Linked DNA regions of Homo sapiens: all the other regions are reported to be linked to region 4. Evidence: microRNA targets listed by miRTarBase, many of them from high-throughput screens and not tested one by one. Region 4 holds a microRNA gene; each other region holds the end of a gene's coding sequence.

Region 1 (4,103 bases), not on the chromosome of region 4:
AGCTTCCCCTCTGCCTGCTTCTGCTCTGTCGCGCCTTCGGAAGGGCATGCTGCTCTCTCCCCTCCACTCCCTCCTTTACACATGAGGACCCTGAATCCCAGAGGTGCAGTCATGTACCCAAGGCCACGTACCTGCTGGTGGCAGAGCTGGGATGGGACCCTGGGACCTTAAAGAGAGCAAGTCCAAACCCACTCCTAAGAAGCCGGTGCTGCTGAGCTGCCTACCCCTGCTCCTACAGCAAGGTGATCCTGAGATGCCAGGGCTGCCACCCTCCCCTGGGCTCTTGCTCTGAATTCGAGACATACAGGATGCACTGTCCCTTTGCCTCTAGAGCCTCCAGTTCTAGGTCTGCAGTGGGAGGGCTGCCTTCCAGCTACACAGGGGCAAGGGAGCAGCTGCAAATTCAGTCTCTCAGCCCAGGCAGGAAGCCTGATGGAGTCAGGATGGGGATCAGTGGGGTCAGCATTCTGGATGGGATAGGGGCACAGGACAGGGAGGTCAGTTCGGATTTGGGTCCCTCTAAGGGAACTGGCCAGGGTGTGAAGCAGCCAGGTGCAGACAGGGATAGGCTCACTAGGCGTGTGACTTTGTGACCTTGGGCAAGGCCCTGCCCTTCTCTGGGGCTCAGGCTTGCTTGTCATCTGCAAAAAAAATGAGGCTCGAACAGAACTCTCAGGTACTTTCTAGTTTCATGAGTCCCTGAATTGTGAAAATAAAAAATTACCACTGAGAAACCATATACACTTCCAGACTGGTGGCTGCCTAGCCTGGCCTCTGCTCCTTGACAGAGGGGCTGGCCCTGGTGTTTGAGCTTGTGTGCTTGAATTGGCCTCAGGCCCACCGTGCCTTTTCTCATCTCAGACAGTACTCTTGCTCCTTCAGTTGCCACGCTGGCTCCCACCGGCCTCTTTCCAGATCATGAAGGTATTTTTCCTTCATCAAATTGAGAGGAAGTCCGTAGTAAAGCTGCCCGTTGACCAGGTAGTGCCGAGAGAATCGGTAGGTCACATGGATTCCTAAAGGTCCCCTGATCAGCCACAGTTTGATTCATGTTCTGATGCCCTCCCAGATGATGCCACCATTAGGTCTGCTGGGGCTGGGGGTGAGTCCCAGATTGCCCTGGATGTTATCTGTAGAGGATAGGAAGCGGCTGCTCTGGGGCCAGTGGCCAGTAAGGTCCCCAACCCTGGGGCCCAGCTCTCCCTTCCAGCTGATTACAGGCTATGGCAGGCTCCATAACCTCCCCAATTAGCCGGAGGCCAGGCCCAAGGCCTTTCTGATAACCTGAGCTCCAGTGGCAGCCGCTGTGGGGCCAGCTTATCTGGTCTCTCTTATCCTCACCCTTCCCCCACATACTCAAAGAGTTGCCCTGACTTCAAGCAGATGAATAACCAGATTGTCCTGCAAGCTCAGCCGGCAAGTCCAGCCCTACACCCACCACTTTCCCTGCCTGGGGGAGGCCACAGCTGTTTTGCCCCTGCTGGAGGGGAAGGGCCGGGCCAGGGAGGACTCCTGACTCTGTAAGCTGCCAGCCAGTTCCCTGAATGGTTGAGAGAGCCCCTGGCAGCAAGGTCTCTGCCACATCCACGTGTCCTGGGGTGGTTTCAGAGGGGCTCATGCTTCCTAGGGCAGCTGAACCCATCCCCAGGAAGACAGGCCATGGGCAGCATGCACAGGTAGCCTGGTAGCACTCTCCTCCTTGTCCCTTTTTGATTGAAACATGGCTGTAGCTGGGGGTAGGGGCAGTGCCAGGCCCATCAATAATTCAGCAAGATGGGGAAAAGCTGCAGCTCCTCCAGCACCCCCTGCTGCTGGGGCCAGGCTAGTGTTCGCAAGCATGCCTCAGTCTGGCATGTGACTTCTCGCCCTGCAGGTGCCCTGGCAGGAGGGACTGGCTTATGCCACCCTGTGCAGGATCGTCTTCTCAGCTTACAGAGCCTAGTGTGATTCAACAACCCTCCATCTCTGCCCCCAACATGCCCAACTGATCTGGTGGAGGGAACTGAAGATGAAGGCCTCTCAGGCACCATGGATGGGATGGGTGTGTGTGAAGGGGGCAGGGTCCCCAGGAGCTGCCCCAGGTCTGGCTGGACAGTTGCACGGGAAGTCCTGTTTGTGAACTCAACGTTTCCACGGCTTTTCCATTAAACTTTACCCCAAATCACACCTGGCTCTGTGGGTTTCCTTCCATTCTCCAAGGCCTCCCTGGGGTCTCTGGGAAGTGTGGGCCAGGGAAGGGGGCAAAGGACTAGCATTCGTCTCCTTCCTGCTCAATGCACCATTTTTTCTCCCTGTTCCTGTCTCTGTTGCCACTTACTTTAGGTCCGGAAGTGGTGGTGGTGGGGCGGGGGGACAAAATCAGGAACGTGTCATCTGAGGGTTCCGGCCAGGTTTCATGAGATACCCACCTTCACCTGACCACCCTTCCATCTTCTGAGTTAAAAAGAGGCAATTACAACAAGGTGCCCCCCAGATGAGGCTTTGCCAGACTCTCCCCTTGACAGCAACCCACCAGCACATGGCAAGCCCTGATCCCCAGGGAGGAGGGTCCAACCCTGTGGCACCCCAAGAACTCATTGCCTCTGGTAACAGGCAAGATGCTTAGAGAATGGGCTTCTTAAATCAGGCCCCATCCAAATTCCAGGACAAAAGTTCTTCCCATTCCAATCCTCCACTGACTCCTTCTGCCCCCAAGTTGCACATGAAAGGGGGTGTTGGGATCCTGGGCACTCAGGCCATAGGACTCTGCTCAGCATTTGGAGAGGACCCTTACCCCAGCAACTCAGGGATGGACACCAACTGCAGCGTGATTTATTGGACAAGACGTGCACTTTTCAACAGGGCCTCAGTAACCACGGTTTCCTTCACTGATCAGTACAGGACCAGGGTAAAGGGGCTTAAAGATAAGAAAGACAAACTCTTCCCATGAACAGATGGGGAAAGAAAGGAGGAAGAAGAGGCATGTCCTCCCTTCCTCCTTCCCTAGTACTCTGGGCCTCCGTTCACCCCGTGCTGGAGTGGGGCTGACCAAGGGAAGCTGGGGGCAGTGTGTGTCACAGCCAGACATGAGCTGAGGCTGTGACTGTCCACTCAGGGTCAAAATGGCCAGGTGGACGATCAACTCTGTCCCCACTCAGGCCCCCAGATCTGGTCACTGTTCCAGGCTCCCCCCACCCGCCCCACCGTGGGTATGGTTAAAAAATACAAAAGCGGATCCAATGCAGGATGTCATATGCAAACATACACAGGGACCGAGCTTCTACAGTCTCTCCTGGCCACAGCCTCCACCGACAGGTGTGGCAGAGGGCAAGTGCGCTGAGGTGCTTGGAGAAGGGTCTCTTCTCCATCCAGGTAGGATGGGCGGCTGCTGTCACTAAGCTTGGGGAAGGTGGTTGATGAAGGAAGAGCAGAGACTGAAGGGTAGGACCAGAGCGGGGCTTCTCCCCTCCTCCAGCAGGGGAGGGGGCTGGCCAGTCAGAAGCAGGTTGCTGGTACCTACGGGAAGCCAGTCGGGAAGAGGCTGAGGGGCTGGCTCTCATTGGTGGGCAGCGGAGATCGGTAGCCATCAAAGTTTCTTGGTATGCTGCCGCTGGTGGAGCCTGAGCTGTTACTCAGAGTCTCGATGCTTCCCTCTCGCTGAAGTTCTGCAAGACACAGGAGAGGGCCAGGCCTGGTTAGAGTTGGGTCTGGGGAGTGGGGGCACCATCTGGGCCAGGCTGCCTGCCTTGAGGCACCATTCTGGGTTCACTTGTGTCCTTCCGCAGGGGGATCCCCGCCTGCTCCCTGGATGGGCAGGGGGCAGCTCAGGTCACAGGAAGGCTCAGCCAGGGGAGGGAAAGCCCCCTGGCTGGCAGACTCTGGTGTGAGAGCACCGTCTCCCTGCTGCGGGAAGCCCTTTAGGCCCGAAGCACGGCCACCCTGACGATGTGTGTGGACTACACAGCTCTTCATGAGCCCGTACCCACGCCTGCACACACTCATGCTCAGCCAGCATGCCCCCAACTCCACAGTGCCTTCTGTCCCGGCTCTACAGGGGAGGCAGGCGGGGAGAAGCTAGGACACGGGAGGGCTTGCAGCATCCCTGCCTGATCTGTCCCCACCTC
Region 2 (4,103 bases), not on the chromosome of region 4:
AATTCAATCTGAACTCTTGGTGACACAAAAATTATGTAGAAATTTAAATGGAAACCAAAGTAGTGTCTTCTGTTGTCTAATAAGGAAAATGCTAAACAAAAGCAAAAACAAAAAACCACTTAACACCAAGTTCTCTTCCAAAAAAGCCAAACATACAACACTGTTATTAATAAGCAAAACCTCTTAGGGTTAAAAGTGTAATTTTATTTAGATGTTACTTGTACATAATCTATAGTAAGATATACAAACAGATAAAAATTGTTTAACAGTTTTTTTTAATACCACTTTAAATTCAATTTACAACAGCATTGGTAATACTGCAAGATGACAGATACTATGATTTATAAAACAAAAATTACTTGCTACTCTGGCTGATACATTCCCACTAGTCTTTAATGGATTAATATGTATCATGTATTTTAATTGCAAATTATTATAAAACTTTTACAACCTAGCCACTTGGAGCTCAGAAAACATTTTGATGTTCTAAAAACTTACTGAGATGAAAATGTTAATTTTTGAATAGTATCCTTAGTAAAGAAAAACATCAGTGTAGCCAAGCTTACGGTCTGGGGCTGACAGTGCAAACTCACTTGCCTTGTGCTCCGCCGCCTCCTGTGTGCGCAGCCATCGGGGACTGGGCAATCTTCCCATCCCTTCCCTAGGTCTACGCTATGAGAGAAAAGCTTAGGAGACATTAAACTAAAACAGACGTGGAGAAATAATACGAGGGACAATTTAAAATTACCTTACAATTTATAACTATAATTTAAAACACAAAGTTTGGAGAAATGAAATGTGCTTTTGGATGTTTCTTCTCCATTTGTTTTGGTAAATAGTTTTTGAAAATGAAACTGAAAATTCAAATCTTCTCTTTATTCTTTTCATTGTAATACCATATTAGAAAAGATCTGGATTTAAATTTCAGAATAAATTGAATTTGCTGGAAAAATACTCTAAAAATAATCTAAATTGGATTTCAGTCATTTTCCATTCTTTTAAATGTTATGGTACACAACAGGGCAAAAGCTTTTTCGCAAGTCATAAAATTGAGTTGAAAATAACTTGTTGATTCAGCTACAGGAAGACAACTAACAATTAACAGGCTCATGAATATTTATGAATAAAGTGCCACTAATTTTATTGTAATAAGATATAAATAGAATAAATCCTGACATGGATAGTAGCTTCTGTGTTCTCTCCATCCTGAGAACAGAAGGGCCATAAAAAAACAAAGAAGCATTACCAAAGGGGAGTTCTAGACCCACACGGGGAACTCCTAATACAAAAGCAACAAGAAAGACAAGTAAGACTTTAAAAGTTGCAGAAGTCCTAAGAATAGCGCCAATGTAGTAGGCCCTTTTTAACAACAACAAAAAAAAAAAAAAGAGAGAGAGAGAGAAATTAGAAATTTAGAAGTTCATTAATAACTGTTACTTATATTCAAGGAATTTATAGTGACAGCCTAGTGGTGACCAGCTCTAGGAAAAGACGCTGAAGAGGACGCTCCCAGCACCTGGGACAGAGGAGAGAACAGACACACCAGGGAAGCAGCCTTGGAAAGGGGATGCAGACATGAGGCTTTTCAGGGCTTCAGATCTACATGACTGCACCCAATGGACAGGCTCTGTACAATCACTGCCCACAAGCCCAACAGGTAGCCACTCGAGACACACACACTGAGGGGACTTCGGGGCTGGCTGACTTGCTCAGATGCATTTTAACAAAAACCCCCATCACCATCCTGCTCACATTCCTACCGTCACCTCAAACATCTCTGCTTTTAGCTCCAGATTCTTCTCAACATAACTGAGTAACTAACCACAATGGATATGAAATACTGTTGAGTAGGTTAAAGTCCTTAATAAGTCAAGCGTCTTAGCATATTTTTGAAGTCGTATCTATAATCAAAGCCTGGAGCACCTGTTTGTTCAACACAGTTATCTTTCATCCAGAATTACAAAATATAGAAGCTGTCATTCTTGAGTTTCCCCATGGGTCCCTGGTATTGCCCACGTGGGAACAACAGGAAGGGTGGAGGTGAGGGCACAGCACTGTACTACAGCTGCAGGGCTGATCAAGGGAATCTCATGAGGTGCTTTTTATCATTTAATGTGCCAACAACAGGAGGACAACCATGTGCTTCTAGAACAGGGTGAAGGCCCTCCTCACGGGAGTGATCCCTAATCTGGCCCCAGCACCGTGAAAGGTGAATAGCTGTCAATATCTACTTTCACCTAAACCTAAGCTTTTAAAATTCTGACCAAGTGGTGAAAGGTGCCATCTAAAGTGCTCTCTGTTGCTCGCTGAGGAGCTAAGAACTCCTGCGGCTCACTCAGGACACAGGTGTCAGGAAACTAAAGGAGCAGGGCTCCTTTGCAGCCCAGGCCCTGTGCCGCAGCTCTGCCCAGCTCAGCGGTGTAGCTCCCAGAGTCATGGACTGCTCGCATCTGTTCTGGCCGGCTGGTGCCCACACTGGAGAGACTGGCAAGTATCTTGAGTGTCATCCCCAATGGCCCCAGGAAGGAAAATGGACTCTGTTCTTCACTTTCATTACTGTTGAGCTGCTGAATTCTCTTGCAAAAACCATCAACAGGCATTTACTAAGCAAATGCCCACAGGGAACCCAGCCTGAAAAGGGCCCTTCCAATTTCATATTTGACAGGCATGTGCAGAGGTAATGAAATTATTCAGCAGAGCATCAGATTCACTCAGAGGCTACCAAGCCAAGAAACTGAAAGCAGAAACACTGGATTCTCCCTGTTTGTTGAACCTTTCCCTCTAAAACCAACTTATTCAGAAACACATCCTTTAAAAAAACAAAAGGAAAAACCAAAGCGGTGAAACAATATCACTTACTGGTTGGAAGACATCACTCTGACATAGTCATTAGTCTTGCAGAGACCTAACACCAGGCAGCTTCACAAACACACAGCAAGTCTGCAGAGTTATATTGATCAGTAAGAGTAAACCCAAACTGCACTAAATACTCTCATGGCCAAGAGGAAAGCAGATGCTGTTTTCAGGACAATGTGATAGTGACAGCCTATTTCCTCATGTGCAGCACAATTTGCTATGTTTAGTGGCACTTAAGTATTACACAGTAAATACTGAAAAGACCCAGAATTTTTGGATGTGCAGAAGCAATATCACATTGTTTATACAAAAGGTGCTATGCTACGGGATTAGAATACCACTATTTGGGTGTAGAGACCACTTAAAATCTTCAACACGCTCCCACACGCGGCCTCTCCGCCGGCCTTTGCTCAGTCGGACCAGTCGTTCTCGTCGAACTCTGAGTCGTCGTCAGAGTCGCTGTACTCCACGGCAATGCGCCGGGACAGGATCGTGGCCACGTCATTCCCCACTGGCTCCCGCTTGGCCTCCTGCTCCCGCTGCTCCTGCACCTTTTTCAGTTGAATTCCTGCAGACACAACACGTGGTTCAGAATCACATCCTTTTGCTGGCTCCAAATTAAAGATAAACGAACAAATATGTCTATTGGACTTTTTTTTCTACTGACACTAAGGACAGAAAGTTTTAGAAATTTGAGGGGAGAAAAGCTCAGGGAATATTAAAAGTTTCATGAGAAAAAACATGCATTCAAAGTGAGAAGTTTTTTTGTAACAAAGTAATGTGTTAAAATATTAAAAATTCCTAATTTCAGTGTACCTGAACACCATTAGAGAAAACTGTGGAGCTGCACCATCCCAGACAGCAGCCACTAGGCACATATAGCCTTAAAAGCATGAACTGACATGTGGCTAGTGGCTACTCTCTGGGACGCTGCAGGCTGGAGCATTTCTATCACCACAGGACATCTACTAGGCAGCAACAGCATCCAGAGCCTTGGAAACAGTGTTCTATGCTACTCACTCTCAGCTAACCCAAGAAGTAACTGAGAAACCTTTATTTCAACAATTACTGTGGAAACAAACATAAAATACAATCATCTACTTTCTAGCTTAGTAACAAAGTAAGATATTTGATGATTTAATGTTTATCCATTTTTTTTTTTTTTTTTGAGATTGGGTCTCACTCTGTGACCCAGGCTGGAGTGCAGTGTTACGATCATGGCTCACTGCAGCCTCGACCTCCTGGGC
Region 3 (4,103 bases), not on the chromosome of region 4:
AGAGGGGCTTGTGGGTGTAACCAGAGGGGCATGATGGAACCAGGGGGGTGAGACTGGGTCATGTAAGGGGCGGGGCTCTTGGCTGGGGCGTGGTTCCTGGGTGGAGATGGGCGGGGATTTGTGGGTGGAGTTTGGGTGGGCGGCCCCGCAGTCGCGGAGGGGCGGGGCTTTGGGTAGCATAAGGGGCAGGAGCTCACGAAAGAGGTGTGGCTCCTGGGTACAATGGGAAGGGCAGGGCTTGTGGGTGGAGCCTGAGGGGTGGAATGGAGAGGGGGGCTCACGGGGGGCGGGGGGGTGCTTGTGTCTCCTACCAGAGGGTTTTCGCATCTTGGGGGTTAAGGGTGGGTCTTGGGGCCAAGAGCCCTGCGGGGTTCTCAGCGAGATGTCCCCTGAACTTCCCCTGGCACCCGGCCTGCAGAGTCCTGTGAGCACGTGGTGTGCCCGCGGCCACAGTCGTGCGTCGTGGACCAGACGGGCAGCGCCCACTGCGTGGTGTGTCGAGCGGCGCCCTGCCCTGTGCCCTCCAGCCCCGGCCAGGAGCTTTGCGGCAACAACAACGTCACCTACATCTCCTCGTGCCACATGCGCCAGGCCACCTGCTTCCTGGGCCGCTCCATCGGCGTGCGCCACGCGGGCAGCTGCGCAGGTGCAGACGCAGGGCGGGGGCACAGGCCTGTCCTGGGGGCCGGAGAACCCCCTGCCCTGCGCCCTCAATGCTCTTATCGACCCTTGCAGGCACCCCTGAGGAGCCGCCAGGTGGTGAGTCTGCAGAAGAGGAAGAGAACTTCGTGTGAGCCTGCAGGACAGGCCTGGGCCTGGTGCCCGAGGCCCCCCATCATCCCCTGTTATTTATTGCCACAGCAGAGTCTAATTTATATGCCACGGACACTCCTTAGAGCCCGGATTCGGACCACTTGGGGATCCCAGAACCTCCCTGACGATATCCTGGAAGGACTGAGGAAGGGAGGCCTGGGGGCCGGCTGGTGGGTGGGATAGACCTGCGTTCCGGACACTGAGCGCCTGATTTAGGGCCCTTCTCTAGGATGCCCCAGCCCCTACCCTAAGACCTATTGCCGGGGAGGATTCCACACTTCCGCTCCTTTGGGGATAAACCTATTAATTATTGCTACTATCAAGAGGGCTGGGCATTCTCTGCTGGTAATTCCTGAAGAGGCATGACTGCTTTTCTCAGCCCCAAGCCTCTAGTCTGGGTGTGTACGGAGGGTCTAGCCTGGGTGTGTACGGAGGGTCTAGCCTGGGTGAGTACGGAGGGTCTAGCCTGGGTGAGTACGGAGGGTCTAGCCTGGGTGAGTACGGAGGGTCTAGCCTGGGTGTGTATGGAGGATCTAGCCTGGGTGAGTATGGAGGGTCTAGCCTGGGTGAGTATGGAGGGTCTAGCCTGGGTGTGTATGGAGGGTCTAGCCTGGGTGAGTATGGAGGGTCTAGCCTGGGTGTGTATGGAGGGTCTAGCCTGGGTGAGTATGGAGGGTCTAGCCTGGGTGTGTACGGAGGGTCTAGTCTGAGTGCGTGTGGGGACCTCAGAACACTGTGACCTTAGCCCAGCAAGCCAGGCCCTTCATGAAGGCCAAGAAGGCTGCCACCATTCCCTGCCAGCCCAAGAACTCCAGCTTCCCCACTGCCTCTGTGTGCCCCTTTGCGTCCTGTGAAGGCCATTGAGAAATGCCCAGTGTGCCCCCTGGGAAAGGGCACGGCCTGTGCTCCTGACACGGGCTGTGCTTGGCCACAGAACCACCCAGCGTCTCCCCTGCTGCTGTCCACGTCAGTTCATGAGGCAACGTCGCGTGGTCTCAGACGTGGAGCAGCCAGCGGCAGCTCAGAGCAGGGCACTGTGTCCGGCGGAGCCAAGTCCACTCTGGGGGAGCTCTGGCGGGGACCACGGGCCACTGCTCACCCACTGGCCCCGAGGGGGGTGTAGACGCCAAGACTCACGCATGTGTGACATCCGGAGTCCTGGAGCCGGGTGTCCCAGTGGCACCACTAGGTGCCTGCTGCCTCCACAGTGGGGTTCACACCCAGGGCTCCTTGGTCCCCCACAACCTGCCCCGGCCAGGCCTGCAGACCCAGACTCCAGCCAGACCTGCCTCACCCACCAATGCAGCCGGGGCTGGCGACACCAGCCAGGTGCTGGTCTTGGGCCAGTTCTCCCACGACGGCTCACCCTCCCCTCCATCTGCGTTGATGCTCAGAATCGCCTACCTGTGCCTGCGTGTAAACCACAGCCTCAGACCAGCTATGGGGAGAGGACAACACGGAGGATATCCAGCTTCCCCGGTCTGGGGTGAGGAATGTGGGGAGCTTGGGCATCCTCCTCCAGCCTCCTCCAGCCCCCAGGCAGTGCCTTACCTGTGGTGCCCAGAAAAGTGCCCCTAGGTTGGTGGGTCTACAGGAGCCTCAGCCAGGCAGCCCACCCCACCCTGGGGCCCTGCCTCACCAAGGAAATAAAGACTCAAGCCATTTTGGGGTGTCCAGGCCTCAGTTTGTCTCCTCTCTCAAGGCTTCAGGCCGCCCCCACGGCTGTGGGATGGGCAGCCTGGGGCCTGGGGTGCCGCATGGGTGCTCTGGAGGCACGGGAAGAGAGACCCAGCATTAGTCCTTGGGCAGCCTCTGGCCGCCTCTGGGCCTCAGTGCCTCTCCAGGCAGTGGACAAGCCCGGGAGGGGCTGAGGCAGAGCGGGAGGGGAGGGAGAGAAAGGAGGTCTTTTGGGAGGGCACACAGGATAGACAAGATGGCTTAGGGCAGCCCTAAGACACCAGCTGGCTTGGGACCCAGAAATGGAGGCCCGGTCTTGAATGACTTGGGTGTAACGATAGCAGTAATAAAAATAACAGGATTAGGGCCCGGGTGGGGTAGCTCACCCCTATAATCTCGGCGCTTTGGGAGGCCAAGGCGGGCGGGTCACTTGAGGCCAGGAGTTCCAGACCAGCCTGGGCAACATAGTGAGACCCTCATCTCTACAAAAAAAAAAAAAAAAAAAAAAAAGACCCAGGCATGGTGGCATGCTCCTGTGGTCCCAGCTACTCAGGAGGCGGAGGTGGGAAGATGGCTTGAGCCCAGGATGTCAAGGCTGCAGTGAGCTGTGTTGGCACCACTGCACTCCAGCCTGGGTGACAGAGTGAGACTGTTTCTAAAATAATAATAATAGCATAATTGGCCGGGCGTGGTGGTTCATGCCTGTAATCCCAGCACTTTGGGAGGCCGAGGCAGGTGAATCATGAGGTCAGGAGTTCGAGACCGACCTGGCCAACATGGTGAAACTCCAATCTCGGTGAGCCGAGATCGTGCCACTAAACTCCAGCCTGGGGGACAGAGCAAGACCCCATCTCAAAAAAAAAAAAAAAAAAATTAGCCAGGTGTGGTGTCATGCACCTGTAGTCCCAGCTACTTGGGAGGGTGAGGCAGGAGAATCGCTTGAACCTGGGAGGCAGAGGTTGCAGTGAGCCGAGATCGCACCACTGGACTCCAGCCTGGGTGACGGAGTGAGACTCTGTCTCAAAATAATAATAATAATAATAATAATAACAACAACAACAACAAAAAGGCCCAGCGCGGTGGCTCACCCGCGCCTGTAATCCCAGCACTTTAGGAGGCCAAGGCTAGCGGATCACGAGGTCAAGAGATCGAGACCATCCTGGCCAACATGGTGAAACCCCATCTCTACTAAAAATACAAAAAATTAGCCGGGTGTGGTGGTACATGCCTGTAGTCCCAGCTAGTTGGGAGGCTGAGGCAGGAGAATGGCTTGAACCCAGGGGCAGAGGTTGCAATGAGCCGAGATTGCGCCACTGCACTCCAGCCTGGTGACAGAGTGAGACGTCATCTTAAAAAAATAATAGGCCGGGCGCGGTGGCTCACGCCTGTAATCCCAGCACTCTGGGAGGCCGAGGTGGGTGGATCACGAGATCAGGAGATCGAGACCATCCTGGCTGACACGGTGAAACCCCGTTTCTACTAAAAATACAAAGAATTAGCCGGGTGTGGTGGCGGGCGCCTGTAGTCCCAGCTACTTGGGAGGCTGAAGCGGGAGAATGGTGTGAACCCGGGAGGCGGAACTTGCAGTGAGCCGAGATCGCACCACTGCACTC
Region 4 (4,103 bases):
GAACATGCTAGAGGTTGCGTTGCTATTACTAATATCACCACGTTGCACTCACAACCGAGGACGGGAGAGACTGCTTGAGATGAGAGCGGGAGCTGAAACTCAAACCCAGCCCGATCTCTCTCCTCCTCCACTTCCCCCATGGTCCCAAGAAGTCTCTTGCTTTTAGAGGCTGTGGAGAAGTGGCACTATGACACCCAGGGAGAGGCAGAGGACACATGGGCAGCCTGCTCCACGAGGGTGGCAGGTGAAGGCTACGATACCCAGGATGGGCCAGAGATGCTGGGGTGTGCCCGGGTTAGGAACACTCAGAGTGAGGCAGATTCTGGGCCTTTACATGCTGGCGGGGTCCCCGGGTTGGGGGAGATTAGGCGGGTTCTGTACAGCCCTGGGGCTATGGAGGCAGGTTTTGGCTCAAGGCACAAAGGACTTTCTCATTGTCAGGAGTGCCGAGGAGGGCTAGAGATAGTGAGGGAAGGTGGTGCGAGCCCCATCCTCCGAGGCATGCAAGCAGGGCCCAAGCCCTATCTTCAAGCCCCACCCGTGGTCTGTGATGTCCCTGCTGGGAGAGGTCTCCCTGGAGCATGTCACCTTCTGAAGACCACGCGAACCTGGGGAGTTCAGCAGAACCCTGAAATGGAGCTTGGGAGATTCAGAGCAGGAACTCTGGGTGCCTGGCTCACCCCAGCTCCTCTCCAACCCTCTGCAGTTCCCTCCACCAGGAATGGTCCTCCCTCAGAGCTGGGTATCCCCTCCTGCAGGAATCCCCCCTCACCTGAGGACACTCTTAGTGGATTAGGGACTCTCCTGCCTGTCCCTTGTGAGCACCGAGAAAGCCATGCCTGTGTCCCCAGCACCCACCCTAGGGCTGGCCCCAGTGGCACTCAATAACTGCTAGAAAGTGATGGCTGGAGGCAAACCACTACCCCTGCAGGGGCCCTGAGAAGAGAAGGTGGAGAGATGCGGCAGCCCCAGAGCCCTGGGGTGACCTGGCCCCTTCCCATCCCCCAGCCCCCCTCACCTGGAGCACAATGGCTGGCACCGAGAAGATCATGGCTTCGTTGAACACCGGGTTGGGGTCATCCCTCTTCACGGCTGTCTTCTTTTTGCTCATCTTCCTCCCATCCTGCAGCAGGTACACCTTGACGAAGGGGTCTGTGGGCAGGCGGACAGGTGAGGGCCAGTGTCACACTCACTCACCACAGCCCTGCCCAGTTTGGCTCCACCCACCGACTCCAAACTCCCCAATGCTTAACTGTTGCTGTGACCTCCTGCAGCCCTGCCATTGGTCCTTTATTATTTTTCCCATTTCACAGATGAGAAAACTGAGGCTCACACAGCACGTCAGGTGAGGGCTGGGCTTTGTGCTCAGGCAGCTGCCTCACAGCCCACGCGCTCCCCTCCTAGGATGCTCTGGGGAACTCAGCAGCCCCACCGTGTTCCTTCTATAAATGGCCCGAGTGCAGACGTCAGCCCTGAGTCACCGGGCACCCGCACAGCAGAGCCTGACTCAACCGTGTGCGGCTCTGAAATAACAACTTGCCGTCTGCCCATCACCTATTGCCCACGGGGTGTCCTTGCCGCACCTGCCTGGAGCTGCCCCCCCCACCTACCCCCGCCCCAAGGCTTGCAACTCCCAATAGATCAGGCTCCCCCAGCCCCTGGTCTTCAGTTCTCTAGAATACAGCTGCCTCCACGGTCACTGCTTTGAGAGGGACTGGGGACTCCTGCAGACCTAAGGCATCGGGTCCTGCCTGGCACCCACCCCAACCCCGTGGCCCTGGTCCCTTTTTGGAGTCTGGGATACTGCCCTGTCTCTGGGAATGGAGTCTCCACCATGAATTCCAGTTCCAGGGAACAGATGCCCACCTTGGTTCCCTGCCCAGTGCCCCCAGCCCTGAGTGCGGCCTCCTGCCCTGAGACCCCCGCATCACTCTGACCCCCTTCACTCTGCCCTCACAGGGGCCCCTGCCACCCTCCAGGGATCTCATGTTTCCCCGGCTGGATTAATTGTCCCCATGCCACCCCCTATCCATCTGCATGACTTCTGGGCTCAGCAAAGCTGAGGGGGACCTTGGCACTGTGTCCCACACCTGCCGATGCCTCCGGGTGCCCACAGCACAGCAGCTGGGCCACAGCTTCCACTGAGCTACGTGGAGGAGCCGGGCTGCCGGCTGGGCCTTACCCGCTGTGGTCTTGTCGTTGGTCCAGATGAGGTTCTTGGCCTTAACCACGACCACGGTGAGGCGCTCGGCTGTGGGGAGGTAGCTGAGGGAGAGCAGGATCTCCCCCACAGCATCGGCGGCCTGGGGGACAGACAGGTGGCTCAGAGGGCTTCTCCCCACCCGACTTGAGGGGTCCAGGGAAAGCCTTGGTTGCCAGGGAAAGGCTGGGGCTTCCTTCTCCATAGAGAAGTGGCTGCACTGGGGGCCCCTTACCACAGGGCTCCAGGCAGGCAGGGACAGCCTGGAGAAAGGGACAGCCACCCACCCCCCGCCACTGCATGGAGCATGCCCCACTCCTCCCTTCCACCGGGAGGGTCCTGCCTGGGGCGGAGGGTCAGAGGCGGCCTGTCAAATGTAGCTATCAAATGTAGTTTCGTTCCCTCATTGCAGGCCAAGGAAAACACTGCGGTAGTAATACACAGCGATCAGAGTGGAATGGAATTAGATTCTTTGATTAAACAACAATGATGTTCTGTGAGCATTCCTACAATTATAAAACTAAAGTGCAGCTTGGTGTCTGTCTGAAATCATCCCCTCTAAGGCTAGAGGAATGTTTCTCTAGCAGAAGCTCAGTAGGGGTAGAACCTCTGAAGCTTTGGTGGCAAAGCAGCAGACGAGCTGTAAACAGTGGTCGGGATGTTTTTGAAATTTGCCTGCAGCAAGCAGTTTCCTCGGATGTGGCTCAGGTCTTCTTCTCTGCTCTCCTAATGATGATGGGGCTCAGGCTATTGCAGAGGATGATGAGGATGATGGAGTCCCTTCCTGGAAGTGTATGTGTGTGCACGCTCTTCCGAGGTGGACGAGCAGGCAAGTCACTTACCTTGTTCTGGTCCTGTAAATAGAGCCAGCCACTGAAGGGCTGCAGCGGGAGGTCAAGCACAGAAAGCTTCAGCTCCACCACCCCCGTGCTGACGTTGCGCTCATCCTCATCGATGCCAAATACAGAAAACCGCAGGCTCTTCTCCTCCAGGGCTGTGGGATCCAGGGGGATGGAGAACTTCTCATCAAAGAAGATGGAGTAGGCATTTCTCTGGATCTGCAGGAGAAAAGGCCATGGAGGGCGCTAGGGGCCTGAGAGGCCACAGCAGGGAGACAGCACTGGACAGGGAGTCCAGAGGCCCAGGCTAGAGTCCTGGCTCTGTTGTCTTGACACCCTCAATGCCAATCTTTCCTTTGGTGGCTCAGCCTTGAAGGTTTAAAAGCCTCCTGTCCTCTCCTCAGTGGCGGCCAATCTAGTGGCCTGGCGTTTTAAGCTCCCACAATCTGATCCCAACTAATTTCCGTCCTCAGTGCCCGTGGCACCCCAGAACCCTCAAGATGCCCTGGACGAGCTGGTCTCCATCTTTCTTGCATCTGTTCGAGTCTAGCCCTAGGCCAGGCAAGCAGTGGAGTGGGACAGTTGCCTGTGGAGTCACGAGCCACTGACGTCCCAGGTTCCTGCAGAGCCTGGCCCAGGACTGTTTGAACACCGTAGGCTGGATGGGTGGATGGAAGGGAGGACTAGGCGAGGTTGGGCCAACTCGGTTTCCAAGCCCAGTCCTGCCTGGTGGGCACCACTGACCTCCTCCCAGGAAGTTGTGGGCAGGCCCCCTGGGAAGGTGCATTGCGGGCTCTGTCTCTGGGGAATAAGGGGGATGCTTTAGTCACTGCCTGGTGATATTTAAAGAAAGGCGCTCTCATCCCTGGACCCTGCCTGAGGCTGGGGGGCTGCCTAGCCTGGGGGCAGCACCCCCTGGTGGGATTGCCCAGGCTGTTAAGCTGGGAAGCTTGCCTTCCCTGGAATAAATCCCCCAGCGCCACCGGCCACCATGACCACACTCTTCTGTCACTGCCTGGGTGTGGGAAGGCTCCTCGCACAGTGCTCACGTTCCCTACACAATC
Region 5 (4,103 bases), not on the chromosome of region 4:
CGGAGCCGAGGGCAACAGGTACTACGAGGCCAACTACTGGCAGTTCCCCGATGGCATCCACTACAACGGCTGCTCTGAGGCTAATGTGACCAAGGAGGCATTTGTCACCGGCTGCATCAATGCCACCCAGGCGGCGAACCAGGGGGAGTTCCAGAAGCCAGACAACAAGCTCCACCAGCAGGTGCTCTGGCGGCTGGTCCAGGAGCTCTGCTCCCTCAAGCATTGCGAGTTTTGGTTGGAGAGGGGCGCAGGACTTCGGGTCACCATGCACCAGCCAGTGCTCCTCTGCCTTCTGGCTTTGATCTGGCTCACGGTGAAATAAGCTTGCCAGGAGGCTGGCAGTACAGAGTGCAGCAGCGAGCAAATCCTGGCAAGTGACCCAGCTCTTCTCCCCCAAACCCACGCGTGTTCTGAAGGTGCCCAGGAGCGGCGATGCACTCGCACTGCAAATGCCGCTCTCACGTATGCGCCCTGGTATGTGCCTGCGTTCTGATAGATGGGGGACTGTGGCTTCTCCGTCACTCCATTCTCAGCCCCTAGCAGAGCGTCTGGCACACTAGATTAGTAGTAAATGCTTGATGAGAAGAACACATCAGGCACTGCGCCACCTGCTTCACAGTACTTCCCAACAACTCTTAGAGGTAGGTGTATTCCCGTTTTACAGATAAGGAAACTGAGGCCCAGAGAGCTGAAGTACTGCACCCAGCATCACCAGCTAGAAAGTGGCAGAGCCAGGATTCAACCCTGGCTTGTCTAACCCCAGGTTTTCTGCTCTGTCCAATTCCAGAGCTGTCTGGTGATCACTTTATGTCTCACAGGGACCCACATCCAAACATGTATCTCTAATGAAATTGTGAAAGCTCCATGTTTAGAAATAAATGAAAACACCTGAGCTGGTGGCTGTGTACTTTGACTGGTACATGGAGGCTATTTTAATCCTTCTAACTAAACTAAAATAGATTAAAGGAATTAAACTAAAATACAAGTAAAGCTAGACAAAGGCCCAGAAATCATACTGTAAGGAAATGTTATTGGAAGCTGATTCCCAGAGCAGACCACATATACAGCAGGATGTGCCTGTGGCATGAAGATTTTCTTTCTCTTTTTTTTTTTTTTTTAGATGGAGTTTTACTCTTGTTGCCCAGGCTGGAGTGCAACGGCATGATTTTGGCTCACTGCAGCCTCTGCCTCCCAGGCTCAAGCACTTTTCCTGTCTCAGCCTTCCGAGTAGCTGGGATTACAGGTGTGTGCCATCATGCCTGACTAATTTTGTATTTTTAGTAGAGACAGGGTTTCACCATGTTGGCCAGGCTGGTCTTGAACTCCTGACCTCAGGTGATCCACCCACCTGGGCCTCCCATAGTGCTGGGATTCAATTTTTTTTTTTTTTTTTTCAAAAGAAGGGTAAGTGCTTGCTGTTCCCATCCCTGAAACATTGCATGTATTTAAGAAAAACAAAATGTTAGTGGCATATTTGCTTCTAATGTTCCCCTAACCCTACATGCATGTTTTATGTGCACTCATATGAGTATCTTTAAATATAATCCCTTTACATCTGTGTTCTATGCAAAGTCTCTCATTTCTTTCAAGACAGCCTAATGAAGGCCATCATCTCTGTAAACCACTTGTCACTACAAAAATACAATTACTCACCAAAAAGCTTTAAAAAATAAAGCTGTGTCTTTAGGGAGACCCAATAAAGAATGCAATCCATGCCATAAGCAGGAGTTGATACACCACCTTATTAGCTAAAAATATATATAACACAATATGAGTAATGTTTAAGATCTGTTTTAAATTTAAAACAATGAATTGAATGCTCTAAGAGGCTCCTACAGGCGCTCCAGGCCACTCTCAGAGACTCCCAGGAGTTGTTGAACTATATTTGGAGAAAACAGCCACTGAATATTATCATTTCTCCTTTAAAGAGAGTTTGTAAGGGGGGAACATGCATTTTATCAGACAATTTATCCAAAGCATTGCAGAACATGAGTGCTGATGAGGGCACCTCTTGTGCTGAGTCCCCTCAGCTATCAGTGTTCTTCTCAAGGACACATTTGGAAGGTTTTAACATTGAAAGTGAGCGGAGGACTTGGGGGCAGAGCAGCACAAAGAAACAGCCTTACACTGGGCACATGGAGGAGACGTCCACCCTGCAGCCAGGACTGGGGTTCACGTCACTGCCAGAGCTACACTCGCCTTCTGCTTCCACGGTCCTGTTAATTCTAGATCAGAGAGCAAGAAAAAAGTACAGAACATATCCTCTACGGTTATTTCCTGCTTTCTAATTAAAAAAATAATAACCATGGCAAGAGAGAAAGAAAGAGAAAGTACTCAGAGGCTGACACTGACATTTCACTTCCTCGCTCTCCTAAGTTTAATTACAACAGCACGTGCAGCCACGTCAGCCAAATGACTTCATTTCTGATGTGAAAACGCTTAGGCCATGATGTCGTTCATTTTCTGTAATTGCTGCCTTTTCTCATTCTGTTAATAGTCCCGGCAACCAGATTTCAGTGGGGCATGACGTGAATGTGTATATGGTGATTCAAATGCAAAATTTGTTTATGGGGCTTTTAATCGAACGCGTGTGTGCCTGAACATTCTTGCTCAAGTTGATGAATCATGGGGTGGAATAAAGGCTGAGTTTAGTTTTTCACTTTAGCAAAGGGGCAATGGGGTGCCTACTATGTGCGAGACATTGGGAGGGGCTTCTGAATTATTCTGGATATCGTCATTTTGCAGTGTGCATAATTTTGCCAACCGTTGCTTTCGTAGCCCCTGCTAAGTGTTGACTTTTTAAAATATAAGTTTATTGTAAAAGTGACATGAAAATTACAACAGATATTCCAGACCAAAATAATACAACAATCCCAGCATCTGATTGAGTCAGTGTTTGCTGTTTCCCCTGCACTTTCCTAGTTCTTAAGCATTTGCGTATGTAAACATTCATATTTGCAATAAAAAAGTGAGCTTTTATATTCTAAATTTTTACTTAACTTAATTCAATGCTTTCTACTCATTTTTCTATACTTTTTTTTTTGAGGCAGAGTCTCATTCTGTTGCCCAGGCTGGAGTGCAGTGGCGTGATCTTGGCTCACTACAACCTCCACCTTCCAGGCTTAAGCGATTCTCATGCCTCATCCTCCCAAGTAGGTGGGATTACAGGTGCCCACCACCAAGCCCTGCAAATTTTTTTGTATTTTTAGTAGAGACAGTGTTTTGCCATGTTGGCCAGGCTGGTCTCGAACTCCTGACATCAGGTGATCCACCTGCCTCGGCCTCCCAAAGTGCTGGGATTACAGGTGTGAGCCACCACGCCCTGCCTACTCTTTGTTTTCTTTCCTCCCCACCCATTTTCCCCCGTCCTGTCCCCTCCTTCCAGCCTGAGATGTAGGCTCCACCTTAACTGTGCTCAGATACACAAGTGAGGGCTTTTTAACTTGATTATGCCTTTTAAAAATACTATGTATGTAAAATATTTATTCATCTGCAATTTGGCTTCCCTAACTTAACATTGCATCATGAAACTCTTTGGAACAACAGCTATCTAGATAGCTGACTCATTCTTTTGGATTGCTACGTAATCTCACTTAATACAGATGTATCATGATTGATTGAATCATTGCCTTGTTGATGGGCCTTCAGATTATTTCCAGTTTTTTGCCACTGCAAACAATAAACATCCTTGTACATACTACATTGCAGTCTGGTACTTCTGTTTCTGTGGAATAGATTCACACGTGCAAAATTTCTGGAACAAAGCCTGTGTGTAATTTAAATTTTACCAGCCATGACCGGGCTATGCTCGCACATAGCTGGAGCAAATCCTATTCCCACCAGCTGTTTACGGCATTAATTTGGAAGAGTTTCTGTCATTTAACTATGAGAAGCCACCTTTTCTACAAATGTTGCCTACACATCTTCTCTCTTTTGCAAACGGCACACCTAAAGCTCTCTAAAACTTTCGGCCATGAGGACCATTTGAAAATCCTCCTAAAACTGTTAGCAATTCTCATTCTAAACCTGGTCCTTGGCCCAAAACATCTGCATGAGAAGCCTGGAAAACAGGCAGTGAGTGTGTAGGCTTCCAACTCAGAGGG
Region 6 (4,000 bases), not on the chromosome of region 4:
AATAAAAGTAAATTAAATTAAAATAGATACTGAAAAAAATTTGTGTGGGCTGGGAACAGTGGCTCATGCCTGTAATACCAGCACTTTGGGAGGCCAATGCAGGAGGATCGCTTGAGCCCAGGAGAACAGCTTGAACAACATAGGGAGACCTCATCTCTACAAAAATTAAAAAATTAGCCAGGCTTGGTGGCAATATGCCTGTGGTCTCAGCTACTTGGAAGGCTGAGTTTGGAGGATTGTTTGGGCCAGGGAGGTCAAGGCTGCAGTGAACTGTGATTGTGCCACTGCACTCTAGCCTGGACAACAGAGCAAGACCGTGTCTCAAAAAAGAATAAAAAAACTTGTGTGATTATGCCATGAACTTAATACAGTTAGGCTCATTTTTTTTTAATTGCTAAGGATTGCTTTGTTTTTTCCTTTTGTTCTAATTTTCTTTCATAATTATACAAAACACTTACATGGTTCTAAACTATTAAAAAGGAACATTCAGGTAAATCTTAACTTTCATTCCTGTCCCCTCTACTCTGTTCCTTCCTTCTCCCTATAAGTAAATACAGTTATAAGTTTGTGGTTTATCCTTTCATTGTTTTTTGAAAGCATAAGGAAATACACTCATATCTCCCTCATTCCTTACATAAAAAGTACAATACTCTACATTCTGTCCACATACATTGCTCTTTCACATAACAGTACATCTTGGAGATCACTCCATGGGAGTAAAGAGATATCTTCCCCAATCCTTTTTATAGCTGCATAGTAGTAATTCATTTTGCAGCTATACCAGGCCTGATGAGCATCTGAGTTGTTTTTAGTCTTGCTATTACAAATACTATTGTAATAAGTAACCTTGTACATGCTTCATTTCATATTTTTTTGCCAGTGAATTTTTGGGACAGAATCCTAGAAGTGGAATTGCTAATCAAAGGGTGACTGCACACATAGTTTTGTTTAATATTGCTAACTTCTTCTCCATTAGGGTTTTATCATTTGCAATAACCTTTTAACTGTTTCCCTTCTTCCACTCTTGTCTACCTACACCCATTCTCCCTCATATCTTATAAAATCCTATAAAATACTAATTGAATCATATTACTCTCTTACTTAAAATCTTTCAGTGGCTTCCCATTGCATTTAGAATAAAATCCAATCTCTTCACACTATAAAAACTTAGATGATAGAGCTCCTGCCTCTGTATCAAGTTAGGATTAAGTTTGACTATGAGCAAGAAAGACCCAAAATGACAACAGCTAAAACAAGAGAGAAGTTTACTTCTCTGACAAGTAAGTCTAGAGGAAGACTGCCCAAGGCTGGCACTGGAGTTCACCTTCAAGAAAACCTCAGGGCACAAGCTCCTCCCAGGCCATGCTCTGTCATCCCTAGGACTTGTTCCTCAACCCCAAGACCTAAGAGAATAGCTATAGTACTAGTCATAATATCAATGTTCCAGGCAGCAAAGTTGGAAGAAGGGAAAAGTAAGAAAAGGGGGAAGGGGTACATGCCAGTTGTTTTTTATTATAGGTAAGATTTCTGGAAGCTCTATATGACACTTCAATTTGTATCCCAAATCAGAACATATTCATATGACTATACCTACCTACGAGGAAGGCTGGAAAATATCATCTTTATTCTGGGCAGCCAGGTGCCCTAGCCAAAAATTGGGACATTTTATGCCATGGAAGAAGTCTTTGCTGCACAACCTATTCAGTTTCAGCTCATAATAGGCCATACACCCTTATTCACTATGCTCTAGCCAAAAAACTTCCTTTGTTCTTCAAAGCAGCCAAACTCTTACCTATCTCAAGGTTTCTCCTGCCTAGCACACCCTTCCTCAGATCTTCACATGGCTGGTTCCAACTCATCATTCAGGACTCAGTTCAAAAGGTCACTTCCTCAGACAGACCTTCTTTGACTACTGTATGAAAGGTAGGCCCCACCCCAGTCACCCTTTTTCATATTGCACTGCCTTATTTTCTTCATAGCATTTGTCTCCATCTGAAATTATTAACCTTTTGCCTTATTTCACTAAAATATAATTTCCTCAGAACAAAGACCTTTTTTCACTTCTTCACTGCTATATTCCTATTATGCAGTACAATTCTAAGCACATGGTAGGAGTTTAAGATTAGTTGAATGGATGAATGTCTGACTCCAAAGCCCATGCTTTTCCCATTACATCTACTGCTCCTAGTACATCTGAAATAATATCCCATTCCAGTAGTCAATCTTTGTTTTTTTGAGAATGACAGCCTAATAATTTTCTTTCAATCAAGATTTTTAAAAAATTATTCCTAAAGTAAAAGAAAATCTTATGCTCAGTAAGTAAAAAGAAGAGATTTGGATAAAACATCATGGGCAAGACTCTTAAGTTCCTCGATCTCACAGTTTTCATCTGTAAAAAGAAAGAGTTGATTAAAATTGATTTAATCTATAGATATTTACCAAGCATTATGCTAAACTGGGACATGAAGGTTAAATAAGATAATTTCTGACCTCAAAAGGGGCTCACAGGTGCCTTTCAACTCTACAATTTGTAAGATTCTATATAATTGTTAGTCTGTACCCTCTGTGTTAACAGAAAAAGCCTACCAATTTCCACTACTGAGATATTAATTAAAAGATGTCGAGACATTGATAAACACATTGCTTCATTTTAAAATAAACATTTAATTCAACATTGCAACAGGAGTTGAACTGTATTTAAAACAGAAGCATATTAATGACTAAAAAAATGTGTATATTAATCTTTAGTTCCCTTTTGAGGGGATTTTGATTGCCAGTTCTCCGCAGTGAAATGCTAGGAAAATGTCTTTAGAAGACAGAATTCTTTCTGAATGCAAGTCTAAAATGCTTAAAAGAGATTAAAGGTTTTAAAGACCCAAATCAGAAATATCCATTAGATACATCTCATTTGAATCCTAAGAGTTTAAACATAATAAACGCTGTATTTATTTATTTTATTTCTTTTTTATTTTTTGAGGCAGAGTCTCACTTTGTTGCCCAGGCTGGAGTGCAGTGGTGCAGTCTTGGCTCACTGCAGCCTGTCTTCTGGGTTAAAACGATTCTCCTGCCTCAGCCTCCCCAGTAGCTGGGATCATAGGCATGTGCCACCACGCCCAGCTAATTATTGTATTTTCAGTAGAGAAGGGGTTTCACCATGTTGGCCAGGCTGGTCTTGAATTCCTGGCCTCAAATGATCCACCCACCTCAGCCTCCCAAAGTGCTGGAATTACAGGTGTGAGCCACCAAGCCCAGCCTATATATATATATTTAAAGATGACAAGAAATTAACAACTCAGCATTTTGAGAATGGCATGTCAGGTTATCATGATTAGTACATGGGCACCTGGCTGTGGCTCATCTACTACCATATTCTTTGTTCTTCTAGATCCTTCTTGGCTTCCATCTTGGCAACTCCAAAGGCATGGTGGGGAAAACAGATGCAGAGATAGATGCCTATTTCTCCTGCAGTCTCTTTCAGCATAGCAATTAGGCAAGTTATCAATAAGAGTATATAATCTATAACTTATAGTCCACATAAGGCTTCACTCAATTTGAAAAATTGCCAGTTCTGTCAAATATGCTAACACTCCAATAAGGTATTTATGACACAGAATCTGCAAAAAGAAAAAGAAGGAGACATTTAAAATTAGAATAGTATTAATTATAACAAAGCAGATTGATATTTGAATAATCAATGTTATATTGGTTTAACTTCTAGATTTAATTCATGAAGCTTACCACATGCAATACACTCATTTTTGGCCAGGCACAGTGATTTATCCCTATAATCCCAGCACTTTGAGAGGCCGAGGCAGGAGGATCACTTGAGCCCAGCAGTTCAAGACCAGCCTGGGCAACAAAGGGAGACCTCATCTCTACAAAAAAATTTTAAAATGTAAAAAACAGCCAGGTGTAATGGTATACACCTATAGTCCCAGCTACTCACAAGGCTGAGGCAGGAGGATCACTTGAGCCCAAGAGTTAAAGGTTATAGTGAGCT

Evidence for each region. Region 4 holds the annotated microRNA hsa-miR-6860 (ACUGGGCAGGGCUGUGGUGAGU, at 1,192-1,213, opposite strand). A microRNA usually pairs through its seed, bases 2 to 8, with sites in the 3' UTR of a target mRNA and lowers its output. Matches are read on the target gene's strand: a 7mer-m8 pairs with bases 2 to 8, a 7mer-A1 pairs with bases 2 to 7 and ends in A, and an 8mer does both.
Region 1: the mRNA of BCAS3 is a reported target of hsa-miR-6860. Seed matches in the 3' UTR shown: 7mer-A1 at 2,990-2,996.
Region 2: miRTarBase lists WASF3 as a target of hsa-miR-6860. Seed matches in the 3' UTR shown: 7mer-m8 at 638-644.
Region 3: the mRNA of FSTL3 is a reported target of hsa-miR-6860. Seed matches in the 3' UTR shown: 7mer-m8 at 1,682-1,688 and 8mer at 2,371-2,378.
Region 5: the mRNA of PRND is a reported target of hsa-miR-6860. Seed matches in the 3' UTR shown: 7mer-m8 at 418-424, 7mer-A1 at 679-685, 7mer-A1 at 1,002-1,008, 7mer-m8 at 1,139-1,145 and 7mer-m8 at 3,064-3,070.
Region 6: miRTarBase lists CENPL as a target of hsa-miR-6860. The part of its 3' UTR that is shown has no 7-base or 8-base seed match.

Annotation. Positions count from the first base shown.
Region 1 is chr17:61,391,518-61,395,620 of GRCh38, reverse strand. It overlaps BCAS3 (BCAS3 microtubule associated cell migration factor), which reads right to left. Exons shown (of 24, transcript NM_017679.5): 24 at 2,790-3,644. The coding sequence ends at 3,496. It overlaps TBX2-AS1 (TBX2 antisense RNA 1), which reads left to right. Exons shown (of 2, transcript NR_125751.1): 2 at 1,874-2,165. Among named protein-coding and RNA genes, the nearest start is that of TBX2-AS1, 6.0 kb to the left of the region's middle.
Region 2 is chr13:26,685,009-26,689,111 of GRCh38, reverse strand. WASF3 (WASP family member 3) reads right to left here. Exons shown (of 10, transcript NM_006646.6): 10 at 164-3,424. The coding sequence ends at 3,267. The region is part of intron 1 of LOC107984597 (a long non-coding RNA gene); the gene reads left to right. Among named protein-coding and RNA genes, the nearest start is that of GPR12, 74 kb to the left of the region's middle.
Region 3 is chr19:680,915-685,017 of GRCh38, forward strand. It overlaps FSTL3 (follistatin like 3), which reads left to right. Exons shown (of 5, transcript NM_005860.3): 4 at 419-646; 5 at 736-2,471. The coding sequence ends at 794. Among named protein-coding and RNA genes, the nearest start is that of FSTL3, 6.6 kb to the left of the region's middle. RefSeq lists enhancers at 19-568, 569-1,117 and a silencer at 99-198.
Region 4 is chr11:67,042,793-67,046,895 of GRCh38, reverse strand. MIR6860 (microRNA 6860) reads right to left here and starts at 1,253; the gene lies at 1,188-1,253. It overlaps SYT12 (synaptotagmin 12), which reads right to left. Exons shown (of 8, transcript NM_177963.4): 5 at 3,043-3,258; 6 at 2,183-2,303; 7 at 1,019-1,152. RefSeq lists enhancers at 491-570, 671-800.
Region 5 is chr20:4,724,761-4,728,863 of GRCh38, forward strand. PRND (prion like protein doppel) reads left to right here. Exons shown (of 2, transcript NM_012409.4): 2 at 1-3,700. The coding sequence ends at 322. Among named protein-coding and RNA genes, the nearest start is that of PRND, 4.9 kb to the left of the region's middle. RefSeq lists an enhancer at 2,293-2,382.
Region 6 is chr1:173,796,906-173,800,905 of GRCh38, forward strand. It overlaps CENPL (centromere protein L), which reads right to left. Exons shown (of 6, transcript NM_001387287.1): 6 at 2,645-3,614. The coding sequence ends at 3,543. Among named protein-coding and RNA genes, the nearest start is that of DARS2, 26 kb to the right of the region's middle. RefSeq lists a silencer at 1,652-1,852.